2 linked regions of the Homo sapiens genome follow. The protein of the gene in region 2 purifies or fractionates together with the protein of the main gene of each other region. This does not show direct contact. Each region holds a gene or a part of one and is shown on either strand. Other genes may lie near its edges. The genes, in order: CD109 and RNASE4.

Region 1 (7,665 bases), on a different chromosome or scaffold from region 2:
ACGTAATGAAGGGTGGTTGGTATTCATTACATAAGTGTTTATTCTCTACAAGCGTAGAGAAATGAACACCATCATGAAATGAAATAAAAGTAAAAGTTTATCTGCATCTGTGGTTCTTTCCCCACTGGAAGTTCACTGGGTAGGTATATTTGGAATAGGAGTCAGGAAGAGATGGTGTGTGTAGGGGCAAGTCACTTTTGTCCCTCATAGAAGCAATGTCAGGGAAGTGGGAGGTCTTATTTCCCTGGAGGGGAAGTATAGGTTAGCCCTTAAGATCTGAGTTTGAATCCTGGTACTACTTTGCTACTAGTTGTATGATCTTAGGTAGGTTACTTAACTGCTTTGAGCCACAGTTTCCTTGTCTATAAAATGGAAATAATGAAACTGATTTCCCAGGGCAGTTATAAAGTTAAAATCTGTATATAGTACCTCTTAGGCATGCAATAAACAACAATTGCTAATATTATTAGTGTAATAATACTGCAGAAGAGGATGCAGAAAGTCCATTTCCTTTTTACATGGGGGCAGACTTCAACTTTCGTTATTGGACTATCATTTCTGAAAATGAATGACCCCTGATCTTATGATAGTCGCTAAAGAAAATATTGAAATATTAAATCACAGGACATAATACTTAAGGTAGTTCCACATTCATTATTTATTCATTAAGAATTTATGAGTGGGAAGAGGGAGGGTATTAAAAAACCACCTATTGGGTACCACACTTATCACCTGGATGATGAAATAACATGTACACTAAAGCCCTATGACAGGCATTTTACCTATATAACAAACCTGCACGTGTATCCCTGAAACTAAAATAAAAGTTAAAAAAAAAAGAATTTATAATATTGGCTCCACTAGTGTGGCAGTTTTCCTGCAATGCAGAGATCCAGAATATATATGGATGTTTTTGATAAATATTTGAGCTTTGCTTGGACATTTACATACTCTAATTCTAGAATTTCACCTGTTAGGTCTTTTCTGTGATCTCTGTTATCAGTCTCTCTTTTTTTTTGCAACAAATAGTACCTACATTGGGGTGCATGTTGTTGTGGCTTGGTTTTCAGCTTTATTCTTAGATCTTCTTTTGGGAGAAGGGTTCCTTGTATGCCCATAGGAAAGTTCAAGTACTCAAGACTGGGGCGGGCAAAGCTGTCCTGGGAGCAGAATGGATCTGTGGGAAGGAAGGAGGGAAAACGCTGCTTCTTTCATGGGCTGTTTTTGACTCTATTGACATAGAGTTTCATTGAAAATGCCATTGCTAGGAGCACTCTCCTGTTTCAAAGGAGAATGTTACTGTATTATCAGAGGCTGGGAGTTATTGTTCTCAGAGCAGATGCTTCCTGTAATGTGAGGACTTGAGGATCAAGACACTTCTCCCTGCTTGTCTTCACATCCTTTGCTTTATCTGGCTTCTCCAGTTGTAACAATATGTAGATAAACCAGGACTTCTAAATCAGGGGTCTGGATCTTCAAGTATCTGGATGTGGATTCATGTTTTGTTTTTTCTCCATCACATAAACACCAAACACCAACAAATAAATACCTTTTATTTTTAAGGGACAGAGTCTCACTCTGTTGCCCAGGCCAGAGTGCAGTGGTGAAATCATAGCTCACTGCAACTTGGAATTCTTGGGCTCAAGTGATCCTGCTGTCTCAGCCTCCTGAATCAGCTGGGACTACAGGCAAGTGCCAGCATGCTAGGTTTAAAATTTTTTTTTTTTTTGTAGAGATGGGGTCTTGCTATGTTGCCCAGACTGGTCTTGAACTCCTGGGCTCAAGCGATCTTCCTGCCTCAGCCTCCCGAAGTGCTGGGATTATGGGTATGAGCCTGATTGTTTCATTTTCCTATGAGCCACCCCCAGCCCCCCAACAGAAGGTTGGTTTTAATAAAGATTTATCTTCTAGTAAAGTTGGGTAAGGCAGTAGACTGTGTCTTAGTAGCTTATTTCCAGCAGTTTTGGATTTCTTAGAAATCCTCAGGATAGGGAGGTGTTTTACCCAAACCACAATAGATTTCTGGCTCAATTTGTGTTGGAAATAGTAATAACTAAATTGTTCAAATGGAGAATGTATTTAATAAAGGTGAAAAAGTATGGCATTTCTTCAGGGAAGAGTTCATTTGTTTGTTTGACAGATATGGGGGAGATTTTATTTACATTTCCACTTTTATGGCCAGGAGTGTAGGTTATATTACTGTTATTCATTTAAAAATACATTAATTCTACATTTATTGGGGATTGATTGTAGTTTTTTTTTTTTTTTTTTTTTTTTTTTTTGAGACACAGTCTCACTCTGTCACCCAGGCTGGAGTGCAGTGGTGCGATCTCGGCTCACTGCAACCTCTGCCTCCCTGGTTCAAGCGATTCTCCTGCCTCAGCCTTCCGAGTAACTGGGACTACAGGCATGTGCCACCATGCCTGGCTAATTTTTTGTATTTTTAGTAGAGACGAGGTTTCACTGTGTTAGCCAGGTTGGTCTTGAACTCCTGACCTCGTGACCTGCCTGCCTCGGCCTCCCAAAGTGCTAGGATTATAGGCGTGAGCCACCGTGCCCAGCGATTATGGGCTTTTTTTTTTTTTTTGGTGAATAATAGACCTTTAGAAAAAGTATTTCTGCTACACTTTGCAGAGTTCTGGGAAGGTGTATCAATGCCTTTCTAGTAGTGAGATTCAAAAGATTGCTTGTCACTGTTACCACTGTCACTGCCTCTACCACTATCAGCATCATTGCCATCAGCTCCATAGTGATTAGAACTATGTTCCTAATCTTATCTTCCTTTGCATAAAGAGTTAGTTAAATAAACATAACTGGCAAAACGTAGTAAAAGTTCAGCAGGTAATAATTACCAGAGGAAAGAAGATGGCACAGCTATTGGCATTTAAAATCAAGTCAGATTACTGTTTTGGGTGGAGAGTGAGTCTGTCCCTTTGTCTCTTCCCATATTTTTTTTCTCTTTCCTTACTGTGAAAGGAGTTCCTTGCCAAATCAAGAAAAAAGAAATTAAGAACATTTTGAGAACTGTCCTCTCATCTGTTAAGGCATATAAAATAATTTAATTTTCGTGATGTCCTTGAAACCATAATTTCTGTTTTATTTTCCCTTCTCTTGCTACAATTTGACATTTTCATTTGTAAACTTTCAGTAGTTTTCCTGAACAAGAGTCACTTCAAGTAATAAAGAATATAACCTTTCTCCCTCATTAATGAATTCATCATCATTAGTTTCATGTAAACCTGATTTAAGAAAAAATGCTAGAGGCTGAGTGCAGTGGCTCACAACCGTAATCCCAGAGCTTGGGAGGCTGAGGTGGGAGGATTGCTTGAGCCCAGGAGTTTGAGACCAGCCTGGACAACACAGTGAAATTCTATCTCAAAAACAAAAACAAAAGAACCCTTAAAACCAAAAACTCCCAAAAACCTAAACTGAAAATGCCTACTGAAATTTTGGGAACTCTGCATGGGCGTCTCCAGGTGAGTGCCTGCTGGTTTGGGGGCACCATTTTTTAAATGCTGCCAATCCTACTTCCATCTTCCCATTGAGTTACTGGGGTGGAATGTGCTCTATAAATGTGTCTGTAACTCGCTTTTTCTTTTTGCCCTAAAATCCTGGAGAGTTAATGGAGTGTTAACCTTTTTTTAAAGATTTTTTAAAAAATCTATTTTTTCCTTTGTTGTCTTTCTCACATTGACTATGATATATTTTATTTTCCATCTTGGCTCAGTAAGGGTGGGAAATTTTTAAAAATTGAGATATTAGCTGAAAAACTTAAAAAATCATCCAATTTGGTTTGGATGGTTTTCTGGTGGAAACAAAGCTCCTGAACATGCATTTCATGCCTCGTAGATAAAAATCAGTCCCATGGTCTTTATGAAAGTAGATTAATTAGTGTAGTGTGTGGGCAGATCTCCCAGAGCAGGTTTTCACAGGCAGCTTTGCCAACATAACTCAGTCTGAACCTGCAGTTATGTTAGAATTATTTTTAAAGGGTGTAGGCTTTTCATTCACACATCGTCTTTGTTCTTGTGTGTGATGTATATTAACAGGTAGGTGGTACCTGAGAATAAAGGACCACAGCATAATCACGATGTGCCTGGGCTCTGGAGCCTGGCTACCTGGGCACAGGTGCTGGCCATTCCACTTAGTGGTTGTGTGGCTGTGGGCAGTCATGATCTCACTAGGCTTCAGTTTCATCATCTGAAAAATAGTGGTTTCTGCCTTATACAATTATATGGATATTGTGAGGATTAAATGAGGTAACATATTCAAGGCACTTAACACAAAGGAATTATTCAAGAAAATGGTAGCTATTGTTACTAGAAGAGAGTAGCAACAGTTTATGTCAAAGGCAATTATTAATCACCTATTGTGACAATCTTGAACCGGGAACTCTATAAAAGACACATCCCTAGGAGGGGATTGGAAGGGATTTAACATATTAAATATCCAGTTTCCTCATAGTGCCAAGGACTTTATGCACTATATTTAATTTTAACAACTTGATGAAGTAGATACTCTTGTCTTCATTTTGGAGGTGAGGAAATTGAGGCAAAGAGAGAAGAATTAGTTTTTCTGAGTTAACCCAGTTAGTAAATGGTGAAGCCTGAATTTGAAGTTAGTTGTATCTGAGGTCCAGAGACCATAAGGTTTTCTATTGCTGGGAAGAGAGTGAAGTATTTTTATTTCCTTGATTTTGGGATATTGATGCAATGTTGCAGTTGTCTTCCACTAAAATCATTTTCACATTTGCTTGCAGTAGATAGACCTGGATCTAATGAAATCTAATTTGAATCGAAAGAATTACAAAATGAAATGCCAGCTCTCCTCTTAATTTACTTTCAGCCTCATAGAGTTTTGGAGCTGGAGGGGACCTCAAAGATAAGCAAATTCAATAGCCTAATATATGGCTGGGAGACTGAGGTGAGGCATGGGATCTGGGGATTTTCCCAAGGTCAAATCACTTATTGGTGGCAGAGCTGGAAACAGATTGCAGTTTCCCAAATTTGCAGTCCAGTGCTATTTCCAGTATACTCTACGAAAGTTTCCTAACATATGGAGAGCTGAGCTTAAGACCTAAGATATATTTACAAATGCTGATTCTTCTGATATGGAAGAAAATAAGGCTAACTAAGGAGTTTAAAAATGCTTACTTGCATACTGTGAAAGTTTCTTATTTTAGCTCAAGGTGGAGTTGCTCTTTATGCACTATTTGTTCTGTATAAGGGGTGGGGGCTGGGTTAGAAGCTTCATAGACCTTTTAAAAACTAAATTCTGTTGCTTTGTTTCTCAGAGTCCAAATTGTATTTATTAAAAAGGCTGATTCATGGCCTCCCTCAAGACATGGGTAAGAATCAAGAATCTCAGCTGGGTGTGGTGGCTCACGCCTATAATCCCAGCACTTTGGGAAGCCAAGGTAGGTGGATCACTTGAGGCCAGAAGTTCGAGACCAGCCTGGCCAACATGGTGAAACCCCGTCTCTACCAAAAACACAAAAATTAGCCAGGTGTGGTGGTGGGCGCCTATAGTCCCAGTTACTTGGGAGGCTGAGGCAGGAGAATCGCTTGAACCCAGGAGGCAGAGGCTGCAGTGAGATTGTACCAGTGCACTCCAGCCTGGGTGACAGAGCAAGACTCCATCTCAAAAAAAAAAAAAAAAAGAGAATCTAACCTTTATGTTCCACCATGACCACAGGTGATTCTTAGTCACATTAGAATGAGAACAACTGCCCTTTGGTATCTCACAAATTGTACTCGACCAAATACTGGAAAGCTCGAGGGTGAGTAGCATGCCCCTGCAAGCCTGTGATGATTCATGGCGGCGGAGGGAAGGCTCCTCGTGGACTTTCATGTTTGCTTTTAAGCAACCCTCAACCCTAAGCGCTGGTGTTCATTTTCAGCCGCAGAGAAACATGACTTGGGGTTTGATTGTGAATCAACGATTGGGTGAAGTTAAAAGTGAACACACTGATTCTTTAAACTCCAAGTTAAACATGTGCTGCTCCTCTTCTAGCACTGGATGAGTCACTGTCCTAGTGACTCACTGAAGGATTGTGGTGGAAATAGAAAACAGATCCCATAAGAATTTGGGCTGGGTTACTGTTGATCCTTTATGTCCTGTGAAGAGGGCTTTATAATGCTGAAACTAGTTGTTTCCCCACAGACATTTCTTCTCATTAATGTATTATTTATTGATTATTTGCTGTATGTGAAACATGAATGAATGGGGAGTGGGGAATAAGAGAAAGGAAGGCACTGGAGGACATTCAGAGGTCCCAGAAGGATAATATAATATTAAAAGTGCAGAAGGCTAGAGGAGTTTTTATTTTTTGTATAAAAAATACAATGCGGTTTGTAAATAGTGCTTCTTGTATGTGAGCCTGTGCCTGGTACTATTATCTTTTACTTCCAGAGCTATACAGATGTCCATTCATAAATGTCCCACCTCTGCTGACATATTTGGCCTTTGGAGGGAACAGTTACTTCACGTACTAGAGACGGGAAGGGTGTGCCGGAGGAAAGAGCTGCTGGCTGGTGTGGCAGTTATGAAAAGGAGATAGGGGTTTGTGTATATATTTTCTAAAAAGATGTTTCATTCTGCTTTGGATATGAGTTTGGGGAGACATCCAGGTGGAGATGTCCAGCAGATAGTTTTGAAATTGCAGCTGGGGAGAGAGATTTAGGCATTATTTTCATAGAGGCAGACAATATTTTGAAGTCCTGGAAATACATAAGATGCACAAGAGAGACAGAGCTCATGGAAAGAACAAGTCTTTTGAGAGAAGCTTGGAAAGAGGAAAATAAGTTAATGAAGGGAAAAAGACCAGACACAGTGGCTCATGCCTGTAATCCCAGCAACTTGGGAGGCTGAGGTGAGCAGATCGCTTGAGCTCAAGAGTTTGAAATCAGCCTGGACAACATATTGGAACCTCATCTCTACTAAAAATAAAAAAAAGGTAGCTGGACGTGGTGACATGTGCTTGTAGTCCCAGCTACTCAGGAGGCTCAGGCAGGAGGATTTCTTGAGCTACAGTTATAGTGCCGTTGTACTCTAGCCTGGGTAACAAAGCATGGCCCTGTCTCAAGAAAAAGAAAAGAAAAGAAAAGAAAAGAAAAGAATAGAATAGACAACGAGCAATCAGAGAAGGGTAAATTGAAAATGTCTCAGAAGCCAAGGGAAGAAGAAGTTCCAAGAAGGAAGGTTTAATAGTTAATAATCAATTCTCTCAGGTCAGAGAAGAGGAGGACAGAGGAAAGAACATTGGTGACGCTTAAGTAAATGGCTTTAAGTTGAATGTTGGAAGCAAAAGCAAATTTGAGGGAATAAATGGATGGTGAAAAATATAATCAAAATTTATTCTTTCCAGAAGTTTGGTAGTTGAAAGGAGAGAGGTGGACGGTCTCTCAAAAGGCACATTAGAAAGGTGAAAGTGGTTAAGGCAAAGGAGAGGGTGGATAATTCCTGGGTTAGAAGTGGTGAGATCAGTATTGGGGCAGAGGCAAGTGGATTATCCTTAAAAAACCCTCATACTTTCTTCTTTGAAGAAAGAAAGAAATAGAAGAGAATCATTAAGGAAAGAAATATTTTGAGGTATGAAATTGAGATGAAGAATAAAATTGAAATACAGTTTTAGGAAAACTTATTTACCGACTTGTAAATTGCACA
Region 2 (12,698 bases):
AAAGAGTGCACAATCTGGATCCCGCACATGCGCAGTTCACAATAGGCGTCCAGCTCCTATGAGAATCTAATGCTGCCTGCTGATCTGGCAGGAGGCAGAGCTTAGGCGGACAGGCCACAGACCGGGATTTGGGGACCTCTGTTCTAGGGAACCCTGAGCCCAGGGAAGGAGTCAACCATAAAATTGTTTACGACAGGCTTCTAGCTAATTAGTCAGCTAATGTGAAGAAAGCAGTTGAAAGCAGTTGTATCCTGAGTTGAAGGGAAGCAGACCTACCTCCCCAAGAAGTAGGTGGTTCTTGTTCGTTTATGAGTAACTCACTGAATTTATGACTGGCTATGATTTCTTGGTAGTCATCACACATACTGAGAAATTCTCACAAAGGGAGAAAAATCTGATCTTCAAATTGTATTGCATTCTTAAGTGTAATACAATTCTTATGACCCCAAATGTAAAAATAAATGGTACATTTTCAAAGACATTAAATTAATTATTAATTTTTTATTTTGTGCTTCTCTTGTGTGTAAGTCAATGAACATTTTCGTATCAAATAGTTCTGTAGCCCTTGCAGGAAGCACCAATGTTGTACAAGTTGTGGGGATATTGCTGTTCACAGAAGGGAGTCTGAGCTTAAAAAAAGGCCATGGGTCCTGGCACTAGGCCTGTGGTGTGGCTAGCCTGTTCTGAGAGCAAGACTGTGGATCTAGAAAGACACAGGACCCCAATGTTCTATGGTTACATGGGAAGACGTGACTGGGTGAGCAAAGTGGGCTCTCTTTCTAATTTGCATTTGGTGTTGATTCCATTACAAATTATAATCTATGAACTTAATGCAAACATTTCCAGCTGCTATTTACTCCATTATTGTGGAATGAAAAAATTCCTTAGCATATTATTTGGTATTCTTCAGCAGTGCATCAAATTTGTCCGCACCGACATTTGTCCATACTTGAGAGAGTTGCTATCTCTAAAAGTCTGAAATTCCATGCTGAAAGTGTGTTCTTGGGAGTTTATCAAGAAAGAGGTACATGATTGTAGAATGGAGAGCCAGCCCTAAAGGAGTAACAAGTATTCACTCATGCAGCTGCTCCAGTATAGCTGCTGGGCTGCCAAGCCACCCACTTGCCACGTTCTTCACATTTACATCATGCTTTTCAGTCTCCTGGGTGTGTTTCCTGTTTCTAGTTTTTTGGAAGATCTTATTAAAGTTTTATTGATTTGTAATCAATTAAGTCTCTTGCTCTGTAATGAACAAATACTGACTTCTAATGTCAAAGGTCTGCCTTACACAGTCAACATTCTTCTGCCTGGTGCCAGAATCCCAGAAATCAGAAATCAGGAAACGGAACCAGAGCTGCTAGTACCTAAAAGAGTCGTTAGGTGGCAGTGGTGGATAGGAATGTTACTAATGTCTTCTCTAGGAAATACCGTACTTGCAGGAGGTGCCAATGCTGTATAACTTGTGGGGATATTGCTGTTCACAGAAGGGAGTATGAGCTGGTGAACCTGTTTAGAATCTCTGTCCAAACTCGCTCTGCATTAGATATTAAGACCAAGGACACCTCATTAGATATAAGTGCCAAAGTAAAAGCCACAAAGTTCAGAATCTACCCATAAGGATATCACAAAATAAAGACCGACCTGTTGTCAGGTTTCACGGGTGCCATTTCCAAACATGCCATTACCCACGTGATCGTGGATGAACAATGAAGTATTTACTTGTTAGTGTTTCTTACTGGTGTATATTCCACAGAACTCATATTATTCACCTTGAATCAACATGCTTGCCTTATTATAACCCTTAATATTTTTTAAGTAATTGACTTCATTTTTCTCTCCAGGCCTAGGTTTGTTCATCAAGAAAATAAAAGAGTTGCTAGCTCTAAAAATCTGAAGTTTCATGGTTCTCATTAAACATAATAGAGGCTTTGCTAGTTTCAATAGCAAAGGTCCAGTGACCCTCAGTTACAGAGACAAATTTTGTATAAGTTTAGTTGGGGGCCTGTAATCTTGATTCCCTAAGACATCCAGGAACCAAATCTCAGCAAGCGTACACCAAAACCACCAATATCTAACATCTGCTCCCTCACTCAAAACTTTCTCAATATATTCAACTCTAAATTCCTCAAAAAGCAAGGTAAAATGGAATTGGGAGAAAACCAGTAAGAGACAGATCGTTTGTGGTGTAAAAGTGAATCTGCCTAAGCCAAGGGTGCAAAGCCTCACATCTGGTGGCAAAAGTCCTATAGATATATCCTTCTGTACCCAAACACGTAACTGTCTGTCAGCTTTTTGTCAGTGGAATTAGTCCCAGCTGTTCTCTGTCCTTTTTTTCTTTTCTTTTCTTTTTTTTTTTTTTTTTTTTTTTTTTTGAGACGGAGTCTCGCTCTGTCGCCCAGGCCGGACTGCGGACTGCAGTGGCGCAATCTCGGCTCACTGCAAGCTCCGCCTCCCGGGTTCACGCCATTCTCCTGCCTCAGCCTCCCGAGTAGCTGGGACTACAGGCGCCCGCCACCGCGCCCGGCTAATTTTTTGTATTTTTAGTAGAGACGGGGTTTCACCTTGTTAGCCAGGATGGTCTCGATCTCCTGACCTCATGATCCACCCGCCTCGGCCTCCCAAAGTGCTGGGATTACAGGCGTGAGCCACCGCGCCCGGCCTGTTTTTTTTTTTTTTTTGAGACAGAGTCTTGTTCTATCGCCCAGGCTAGATCGCAGTGGTGCTATCTTGGCTCACTGCAACCTCCACCTCCCAGGTTCAGGCAATTCTCCTGCCTCAGCCTCCCAAGTAGCTGGGATTACAGGCGGCCACCACCACGCTTGGCTAATTTTGTGTATTTGGTAGAGACGGGGTTTCGCCATGTCGGCCAGGCTGGTCTCGAACTCCTGACCTCAGTTGATCCGGCTACCTCGGCTTCCCAAAGTGCGGGGATTACAGGTGTGAGCCACCACACCTGGCCCCAACTGTTCTTTAGAGTAACTTTATCTTCTGTATCAAATGAATCTGTTAGTATTCACAAGAATTATTCTCTCCCTCTCCCCACAGGCAATGTTCAGTATTCAAAAGATTCATCAAATTTTACACACCAGGGAGTTAACTTGACAGTTTATGATGAGTAACTATAGTTATCATTTTCATCAATGTGGCTTCACACTTTTATACATCCTAGGGCAAAATCCCCCAAAGTAAGAGCCTAACACCCAAGGCATATTCATCCCTTTATTGCTTTTCCTTCCTTCTTCCCTTCAACCTGCCAGTGAGCCTTCTTTTGATCTTGGGATGTGTTCCACTTTGTTTGAAAGAGCATCCAAAACTTTTCTAAGAAGAGAAATTAGCAGGGAAGGTTAGAAGGAAACAATGCTAAAAACATACTGTTTCTTTCCTTGTTAAGCCACGTGTAATGCCTGTAACAGGGGTGGACGACGGGGGAGGACTCCCGATGGCCTTCAGCAAATGGCTCCCCCAGGCCTTTGGGGATTTTATCACAATTTAGAAATCCCTCCTAAACTTCCACTTCCTCCCAGTCTCACTAATTTCTCTTTATCCACACATAGGCCATCCCAAAAGAAACCTGTTTTCATTTTAAACTTTAGAATCTGATCCATTTTCTTTTTAATTCATGAGCTTGAGCCTGGAGGCTTTAAAGGGAGGAAAATGGTTTCATTAAAATGGATGGATGGCTAGAAATAATATATAAAACAAATTGAACAATAGTTTACCCAGGAGGAAGAATCTTACAAAAATCTGGCAGTTTCCCTTCAACGGGAGATGGGTTCCAGCTGTTTGTTCCTGGAGATGGGTTCCAGTTGTGTGAACCTGGAGGCCTCTCCAGGTTCTGATTATATAGTGTTCCTAATATATAGTGTCCCAGTCCTGGCAGGGACATGAAAACCAAGGACACTGCTCTTGAACAAACGAGGAGGGTCATTCACCTTTTCGCTGGGCATGATTGGGTTAGATATTAACCCACCTGAATGGATTAGAGATTTGTTCTGGAAGACAAAGTTTGAGAAACATGGCCTTCTGTCCAAAAGTTGCCCTTTTCTGCTGTCTGTGGTGCTTACTCTTGTTCATGGCAGGACTGAGGTTTCCCTATTCACACATAATAGTCTGGATCCATAAGATAGCATCTCTGATCTCCCTGGGCCAACTCCAAGAACTGCCTTGGAAGATGTCACAGAGTAAGATATGGTCTTCCAGTAGGATGCTTTTCCACTGTACTATTTATCATTTATCATATCACATCCTATTTATCGTATCACATCATTTGGTTTCATGAACGGATGCTAAGCACGTTATTCCATCGATTTCATACAGCCAGGAAAGCACTTCCAGAGAAGGTTGTGTGACAGCTATTAGTACACTGCCCCTCCCCCTACACTCAACTTCTCAGCTTCTAACCCCCAGAAGCAGGCTTGCCATGTTTCCTGGGTTTCTCCTTCTTCCATCTTTACCTGTCCACAAGAGACTAACCCTGAACATTCAATCTTCTGATCCTTGTAATGTAGTTGCAAAATTGCTTATCTCCATCATCAAAGCAGGGCTGTAGATCCATTGCTTGCGTAAAAACAGTGGGCCAAAGGTCACCAGGATCACCTTATAGATCTCATAGTTTCCAATATCAGACAGCAGCAGGGTACCAACTGTTTCACAGACCCCCAGCATTTGCCCACAGTGGTGTTGGATCTAGGACAGTGTTATCTTTTTAAAAATCCTCAATCCTCTGTTGTCACCCACCTAGCTGCCAAGTATTCAGTCTGGCTGCACTTGAGAAGGTGTCAAGAAAAGACAGGCTGCCTGCTAGTAAAACAAATGCACTTGAAATCACAATAATTATAATATTCAGTGCAATCTTTCATTTTGTGAAGCTCTCACATACATGACTACATTCAACCAACACCAGGACTGTGTGAGGTAGGCATTATGTAAATATGCTCTGCTCATGAGGAAACTCCAAGAACAAACAGCAGATGAATGGTGGAGTCAGACTTTGAACCCTTCATAAGCAAGGAGAAAACTGACCTGTCTTTCCAGGCTTAGCTCAAGCAACACCACCTCTGAGTCCCGAAAAGCGGTACCCTGCCACAGCATACAACCCATATGCGCCTGCACACACACAGCCCCATGGCCTGAAGCACCAATTCAAGCACCGACTCACACAAACAGAGCAGCCTCTGATTTTAGAGTTCTGCAGTAGTGCTGAGGTGGGGCAACCAGCAGCCTCTGAATATAGTTAGGTCCCTTCTCTGCCTCTGGGCCTTCACTGGACAACCTTTGGAGGATACACAATCTGCCCACAATGCAAAAAGACAGTTTTATGTTTTTCTTTTAAACTTGGCACAAGGAAGTTTTGTTGAAATGAAAAGTAGGGTTTGGGGGAAAAATTACTATTTCATTAGAATGCATCTAAGCACTTAGTCATTTGTGTTTAAAATACAACAAGGAATTATATTCTATGATTAAGGAACATCACATCTTTGTCAGTAATTTTAATACAAATGAAGGAATCGCCAATTGCAAAAAACCTCATATATTTTTTAAATGTTCAGACAGCTTTAACTTGAAAGTCATTCCCCTTTCCTGGAGATTTTTTTCTCTCTCTCCCTCAAGCCAATAATGTCCCTGCACACAGACACGGGATGCACGGGTCCTGTTTCCAAGGACCCTAGTGTTAGAGCACTTTCCTCCTTCATACAGAGTATATATGTATCATTCTGTCTTAGGACTAATTATAAAATTAGATGATGGGAAGAATGGACTAAATAATTTCTATATTTCTTTATTATTCTAACACTTTAGGTCTATAAGCATGAACTTATTCAATAACGGAAGTAACAGGTAAAGAAGGAAAAGCACACGTGGCAAGAAGAACCACGTCTCCAGGAAGAGGCAACACTACTGATTGAAGGACAGTGGGGACAAAGTCCTGCTGACATGCCTGTATTTCCAAACAAAGACAAAAATTAAACATTTGCTTTTCAACCAACTCTGGGCTTTGTGCCCACTCACTCTTTGTTCCCATTCCCTCTTTCCCAAGTATTTCATGGCATTCTTCCGGGAATAACTGTTTACAGAGAATTACAGAGAATCTGCTTAAATACAGATTCAATAAAAACTCCTAAAGAAAGGTTTCACTGACCTTCATTGGTCCACTTTTTTATCCAGCTACTTTAATTTGAGTCACAGTGACCAATGCTTCCAACAATAACTTGACAAACCTCTTACTCTTGCCTGCTTATAACCTGATTATCTGTTTTCAACAATAGCTAAAGCCATTCCTCTTTTCCTGGAATGATTTTTTCCATCCTCTCTGCCAAACGATAGTTCATCTCCACATTACTAGAGTGCCTCATGTCCTGTTACTAACATCGTACCACTCCATGGAGTCATAGAACAAGAGTGGGAGGGGCCTCTGAGACTCTGTCCACCCCTCATATTAAAGAAGAGCCAACTGAGGAACAGAGAAAGAGACATGTATTGCCCAAGGAACTCATTGCATTCGCCGGCCTGGAAGCTTTCCAATGCACCACACAATTTTTTTTTTTTTTTTTTTTAAGACGGAGTCTTGCTCTGTCACCCAGGCTAGAGTGCAGTGACGCAATCTCTGTTCACTGTAACCTCCGCCTCCCAGGTTCAAGAGAGTCTCCTGTCTCAGCCTCCCGAGTAGCTGGGGTTACAGGTGCTCACCACCGTGCCCGGCTAATTTTTGTATTTTTAGTAGAGACGAGGTTTCACCATCTTGGCCAGGCTGGTCTCGAACTCCTGATCTTGTGATGCACCCACCTCGGCCTCCCAAAGTGCTGGGATTACAGGCATGAGCCACCGTGCCGGGCCCACACAACTTTTATATTCCATACTAGTACTTTCTAGACAATCAGAGCTAACTTTAAAGGGGCCACTGAAAGTTGCTGTTCGAAGGAAACCTACATTGACTATTACCATAAATTCAAAAATTATTTTACTCTGCTTGTCATCAGTAAAAGAATTGCTTGAATTGAAGCGTATGTAATAAACCTATCCTCTTGCAAAACTTGTTAGTGGCTCTGTGGTTAAGTAAGTCTTGAATACCTGAGGCTGCTTCTGGGAAGGTGGTCCTGTGCCACAGATAATGATGTCCCTTGGGTTTCTACTGATTACATTATGACTTGATTATAAGATTTTTACTGTCACGAGGGAGGGTCTTGGCTCATCTGAGATTTCCCTAGCCCCCTGAGTGGTGCTGAAATTGTTTTAATAAAGATGTTGCGCTTTACTCATGTGCTGCTATTAGCATTTGACGTGCTGTCTCAGAGCGAGAAAACGGAGGATCCCAACCTTCCAGTAGGAAGGCTTAGAGAAGAGGCTGTTGGCAAGTGTCTCTAAGAATTGCACAACACTGGCTGAGGGTGGGTTAAGGGTGAGGAGGCAGAGGAGAGTAAACAGAAAACACCGATCCCCAAATGTTAGTTACGCTTGCAAAAAACTAAGGCCTGCTTCAAAAAGCTGGTGATTAGCCTGAATAACTAGCAAAGCTTTCTTAGTTGTGGGCAAGTGCAGGCCTCCTAGGGCTTCCCTTAGGTTCGGCGATTCTGTGGTCCCCCTCCAAGCCTACTAATCAATAGAAGCTGGCATCTGTGCCCAGCTGCGCAAAGTAAACCTGAGTGGGAATGTAAAGTCGTTAACTCATACAAATACGGGACTTTCACGTCCCTCCCCATTCCTCCCTCTCCAGCCCCGTCCCGCAAACTCCTCCCCAAGGAGTCCCAAGCTGCCTCTACTAGGAAAGGACTCCCCGGCCTAAACGCCCCTTATGAAGCTACCAGAGAGGAGGAGGAGGAGCAGGAGTGTGAACCTACCTCGGCCTCAGAACAAGTCCGCAGAAACGGGCAGGACAATGGAAAGAAGTTTTGTTTCTCACCCGCTTCTTCCTCCCTAGTACGATGATGGGGAGCCGGTAGAAAACGCAAAGATGTTCTTTTGAATCCTGCTTTGCATCTAGGTGGGGTTGGCGTCCTTGTGTGAGTGTGTGTACACGGACGGAGATGGGGGCGTGGTGAGGTGTGGAGGGTCGGCGTGCCAGCCTCTGCGTAGTTGGGACCGCGCCCCGCTTCTCCGAGGAGGCCCCTCCCGCCTGGATCCGCCCTTGGAGCTGGCGCCGCAGCAGCACCCGCCCCAGGGGCCGCAGGGGCAGCCCAGGCAAAGAACGAGCCTGGGATCCGCGCTCCTTCCTCAGCTGGACCCCAACGGGCAGCAGCCGCGAGAGCACTGCCTCCACGGAGAGCAGATGGCGGGAAACTGGCTTCTGCTCCCAATTGCCAGGCGGCCCTTCAGAGACTACCCCTGGCTGAGCGTCCAGGAACCCATGAAACTTGGTCTTGACACTGGTCGACAGCACCATCTGCCACGTACTTATTCGCTGCTGCTTTCTTTGGCAGGACAGCCCATCGCGAGACAGTTTGTGTTTCAAATTTAACGGAGACTTTTTTTCAGTAGTTGACAAAAGGGGGTGGAAAAACAGTAGCCACGAGGGCTCGTCCGGGATTTGAACCCGGGACCTCTCGCACCCAAAGCGAGAATCATACCCCTAGACCAACGAGCCACTGTAGCTGAGTGGTGCTTCCTATCACTCTGAATTTCTCTTTTCCGCCTGCTGTTCTGAAGGTTTTTTGTTTTGTTTCTTTTCCTCTGTTGTGACATTTCCCTTAGGCCTTATTTAGTTATTCCTTCCATCTTCACCAAGTTTCAAGTGTGGCTTATTCTCTGGCTTATTCTCCTCGATCCAGATGCAGGATGGGGTGAAGGAAGGCAGCTTTTTAGACTTTAGGTCACATGCTTGTGTCTCACTGAGCCCGGGGAGCGATTTAAGCCCGCTAGGGCCTGGAGGGAACCTGGAGGGGGCTGAAATAGAGATCGAGGGCCAGAGCTGAGCTCGGTTGCAAGGCTGTAGGGTACTGAGCCCCAGGACAGACGCGCGATACGTATATATCTGCCGGCCTTTGGACTTAACGTAGAAGCCAAAATATAACACACTTCGGTAAGACAACAGTGCCTTCCCCCAACGGTGGGACGATTCGGGTCTACTATCTTTCAGAAAGGTAACCAACTTTTCAAGACGCGATTAACGCAGCCCACCTCGCGGCTAAGCTGTTTCCTTCGGACAAGGGTGAGAGACAGAAACAGATTTGATCACGTCAAGATACAGAGATTTTTTGCACAAACGAAGAGCAACCGTAAACCCCAAAACAGCAGCGTCTCCTTCGAGCCGGAATCGAACCAGCGACCTAAGGATGACCACACATTAAGTACTACAGTCCTCCGCTCTACCAGCTGAGCTATCGAAGGAAGCACGGAAACAACTCTCCTAAAAATCCCTACTCGAGACATCCTTAACCAGAGACGGGAAAGAAAGAAATCTCTTTATACCCGGAAAGTAATTACTGCAGAGTCACAAAGCCAGCTTGTAAGACAGTCCTGCGTCCGAGGTTCTGAGGACAACCTTTCTAAATCTGGATTCCCCTGCCTCACTGAGGGGCTCCCAAGCAGAGCAGGCGCCCCTGAAACTCGGGCATACCGAGGCTGCTCATCCTCTGGGCGCCCGAGGGCTGTTGGCCTCACTGGGCGCGGACCCAGGGGCCTCGCGAGCGTGGATGCGTGTGTTTGTGTGTAGGGTGGGGACCGGCACCTGGGCGTCGGAGAACTGGGGGCTGAGGCGGTGGGACGCACACAATTCTGACTGCGCAACTGTGAACGCCGGAGAGGGCGGGCCTCCAGGCTTAGGCCCGGGCTCCCTGATGTCCTCACTTCCTGCGCTTCCCTCCCAATCTCGGCTCTTCCGCTTACACGTCCACAGACACGGGAGGGAGAGGGTGTGGAATGGAGCAGTGGTCCCCAACATTTTTGGCACTAGGGACCGGTTTCGTGGAAGACAGTTTTTCCACGGACCGCGGGGGCGGGGGGAAGAGTTGGGGGATGGTTTCGGGATGAAACTGTTCCACCTCAGATCATCAGGCATCACTTAGATTCTCATAAGGAGTGCAGTTTAGATCCCTGGCATGCGCAGTTCCCAATAGGGTTCGCGCTCCTGTGAGATTCTAATGCCACCACTGATCTCACAGGAGGCGGAGCTCAGGCGGTACTGGTAGCTAGCCCGGAGTTCACCTCCTGCTGTACAGCCGGGTCCCTAACAGGCCATGGACAGGTGCGCGGCCCAAGGGTTGGGAACCCCTGAAATAGAGGACATCTGGGCAAACCCAATGTTTCTGTGTGAATTCGCTTTTGGAGATAATATTTGCAGCTCATTCAAAAGGAAGGCCACATTTCTCTGCGTTAAAATCAAATTTAGTGACCCAAGTCTCGCCCCTAAAGTCGGGCCCTTAATTTCCCAAAACCCCACTGGCACATGAAACCTTGCCTCACAACGTGCATCTCTCTTCTGGACGCCTGGCCGGAGCGGCCATTGCTGGCTCTTCCCGTTTCAGAAGTGGAACCTTGATCTCTACTCCAAATATGCCCAGACCCGGGGCTTGAGAATAGCTTAAAGGGCTATTGTCTCGCCTAGCTGTCCCCATTTCCCGCCCGGCAGTCAGCAGGGCTCTCGCCGCCAGTCCGCAAGCCAGGGCGTGGGCAGAGGCTGACGGTGATTTCCACCGCCTGTGTAATGGATTCCGCCGCATTCCAGGAGCTAAAGCAGCATTACTACTGGAACCTAAAGGAAACGTTCTGCTGAGCTAGTGTTTGGAAGCTCTGAACAGAGGAAAGAAGCTCTAATTTGCCACATTTTCTGTGACTTAGTTCAGAAAGACTAGAAGGGGAGTTTTTCAAAAAACACCTGAATCAAGAAAGTAGTTTCGCAAGGCCCCAGCGAGATTTGAACTCGCGACCCCTGGTTTACAAGACCAGTGCTCTAACCCCTGAGCTATAGGGCCTCACGCAGAAACCGCCTCTTCCTTTCACAGAAAAGGAAAAGATTTGCAGGGCTTCTGCCAGCATCTGAGCATAGAAACTAAGTAAAACCTGGATGTCCTTTCAATCCATTTCCCGACTACTAGAATTCGGTTCACAGACTCAGTGTTCTTGCTGGGGATGGTACAAAGTGAAGGCCAGTGAGAGGGACCACTACTATCCTAAGATTGGAGAAATCTGCCCAACGCGACACAGTCTAACACAGAAAGATTCTCCACTCCCTCACTTCAGACTGAAAATTAAGAAGGGAAAACCGGCAGAGGAAGGAGCTCACCACAGGTCTCACTTGAAACTGCTGACATCCGCATTTTGTTTCCTGCTTGACTCAGGACTTCGTACCAGCAACTGTCTGCCTCCAGAGACCTTTCTCACAGCTGCGAGTCTCAGTGCCAGAGCAGGCATTCGTTAATTTGCAGTTTAATTCATTCCTTCATTCAACAAACACTGCATTCCAGTTCTGTACTAGGCTCTGCACTAAGAATTAGGGATCCAGATATGATCTTTATCCTGAAGTCACTGTCACAGTTTTGTGGAACAAAAGAACTTTAGTTTTCATGAAGGAAAACAATGAAAAGTAGCTGTGCCAGGTGTGAAGGGGCGTTGGCCATGCCAAGGTCCACACATTTACAAAGTGAACCATCCGGGGGTGTCTTCAAGAGGGCATTGGCCTGAGCTGCACTATGAAGGGAGGTTAAGACTTAGACAAAAATGGGAGCAGGGTGGTCCCTGGTAGAATAAAATTACGAGCAAAGTCCGAGAGAAAGACTGAGACATTCAAGGGAACACTGGCTGGGGCAGCAGGTGAGAAGATTAGTAGAAGAAAATAGAAATTCACCAAACATTGATGAGTTTGCGGAATTAATTGAAGGGACGAGCAACCAGAGTCAGAAACACCAGTGACTGGCCATGGTGAAGATGCTCAAACATAAAGCTGCAAAAAGGTAATCGTTATGGGACTGGAAAGGAAGGGATGAGTGAGAGCGTTACAGGGCAGGGCGATTCTGCTGAACCTAGGTATGAAGTGAAATCAAGAGGAAAGAGAGGGGACTCTCAAAGGTGTCTTGAAGAGGCAAGATAACACCTGCAGAAAAAAGGAAGCCTACTTCTTCAGCGTATCTGGAGAGGGCGGAGGGGTGACGCTAGGATTTAGGTAAGCTGAATATGAAGTGAAGGTGGAGCAGTTCATGGGAATTGCATGATAGCCAGAATAGTCTCGTGTCTAGAGTTTCATGAATTGATAAATGAATTAATCAAATTACATAAGTCATCCATTGAGTTAGAGACTCTACGAGTTATGCACTCTTGAAGGAAAAGAATACAGAGAAAACAGCTGAGACTAGAACATAAGTTTTGAATAGCCCTGTTATAGGCATATGTTATGTTAGTGTGTGTCCAACATCTTTTAAAAATTCTCCTTACATGTGGATATTTCACATATTATAAGTAAGTCTGTCCTAGAACACTTGCTTTCCCAGCTTACAGCTGAGAATGGGCATGTGACCTGGGCTCCACCAATCAGATGCATCGCCCAGGAAGCTTTCCATTTAGAAACATAAAACAGGAGTACAGGATACCATAAGGAAAACCCATGTTTTTCCAAATATGGTATCAGTGTCAAGTTTTTGGGTATGGGTTTTCTTAAATCCATATACTGCTGTCTTTCTTTAGTTCTGGAAAACTCTCAGTCATTGTGTTAGTTTGCTAGGGCTTCCATAATAAAATACCACAGACTGGGTGACTTAAACAACTGAAATTCA

Evidence for each region.
Region 1: the proteins of RNASE4 (region 2) and CD109 purify together in Homo sapiens (co-immunoprecipitation; 2 studies listed by BioGRID and IntAct, with this or other methods). This does not show direct contact.

The regions. Positions count from the first base shown.
Region 1 is NC_000006.12:73,698,538-73,706,202, forward strand, and holds part of CD109 (CD109 antigen isoform 1 preproprotein), read left to right. Parts: intron 1-7,665. UniProt on the Homo sapiens protein: Modulates negatively TGFB1 signaling in keratinocytes.
Region 2 is NC_000014.9:20,679,896-20,692,593, reverse strand, and holds the start of RNASE4 (ribonuclease 4 precursor), read right to left. Parts: upstream 8,035-12,698; 5' UTR 7,836-8,034; intron 3,831-7,835; exon of another isoform or gene 3,720-3,830; intron 1-3,719.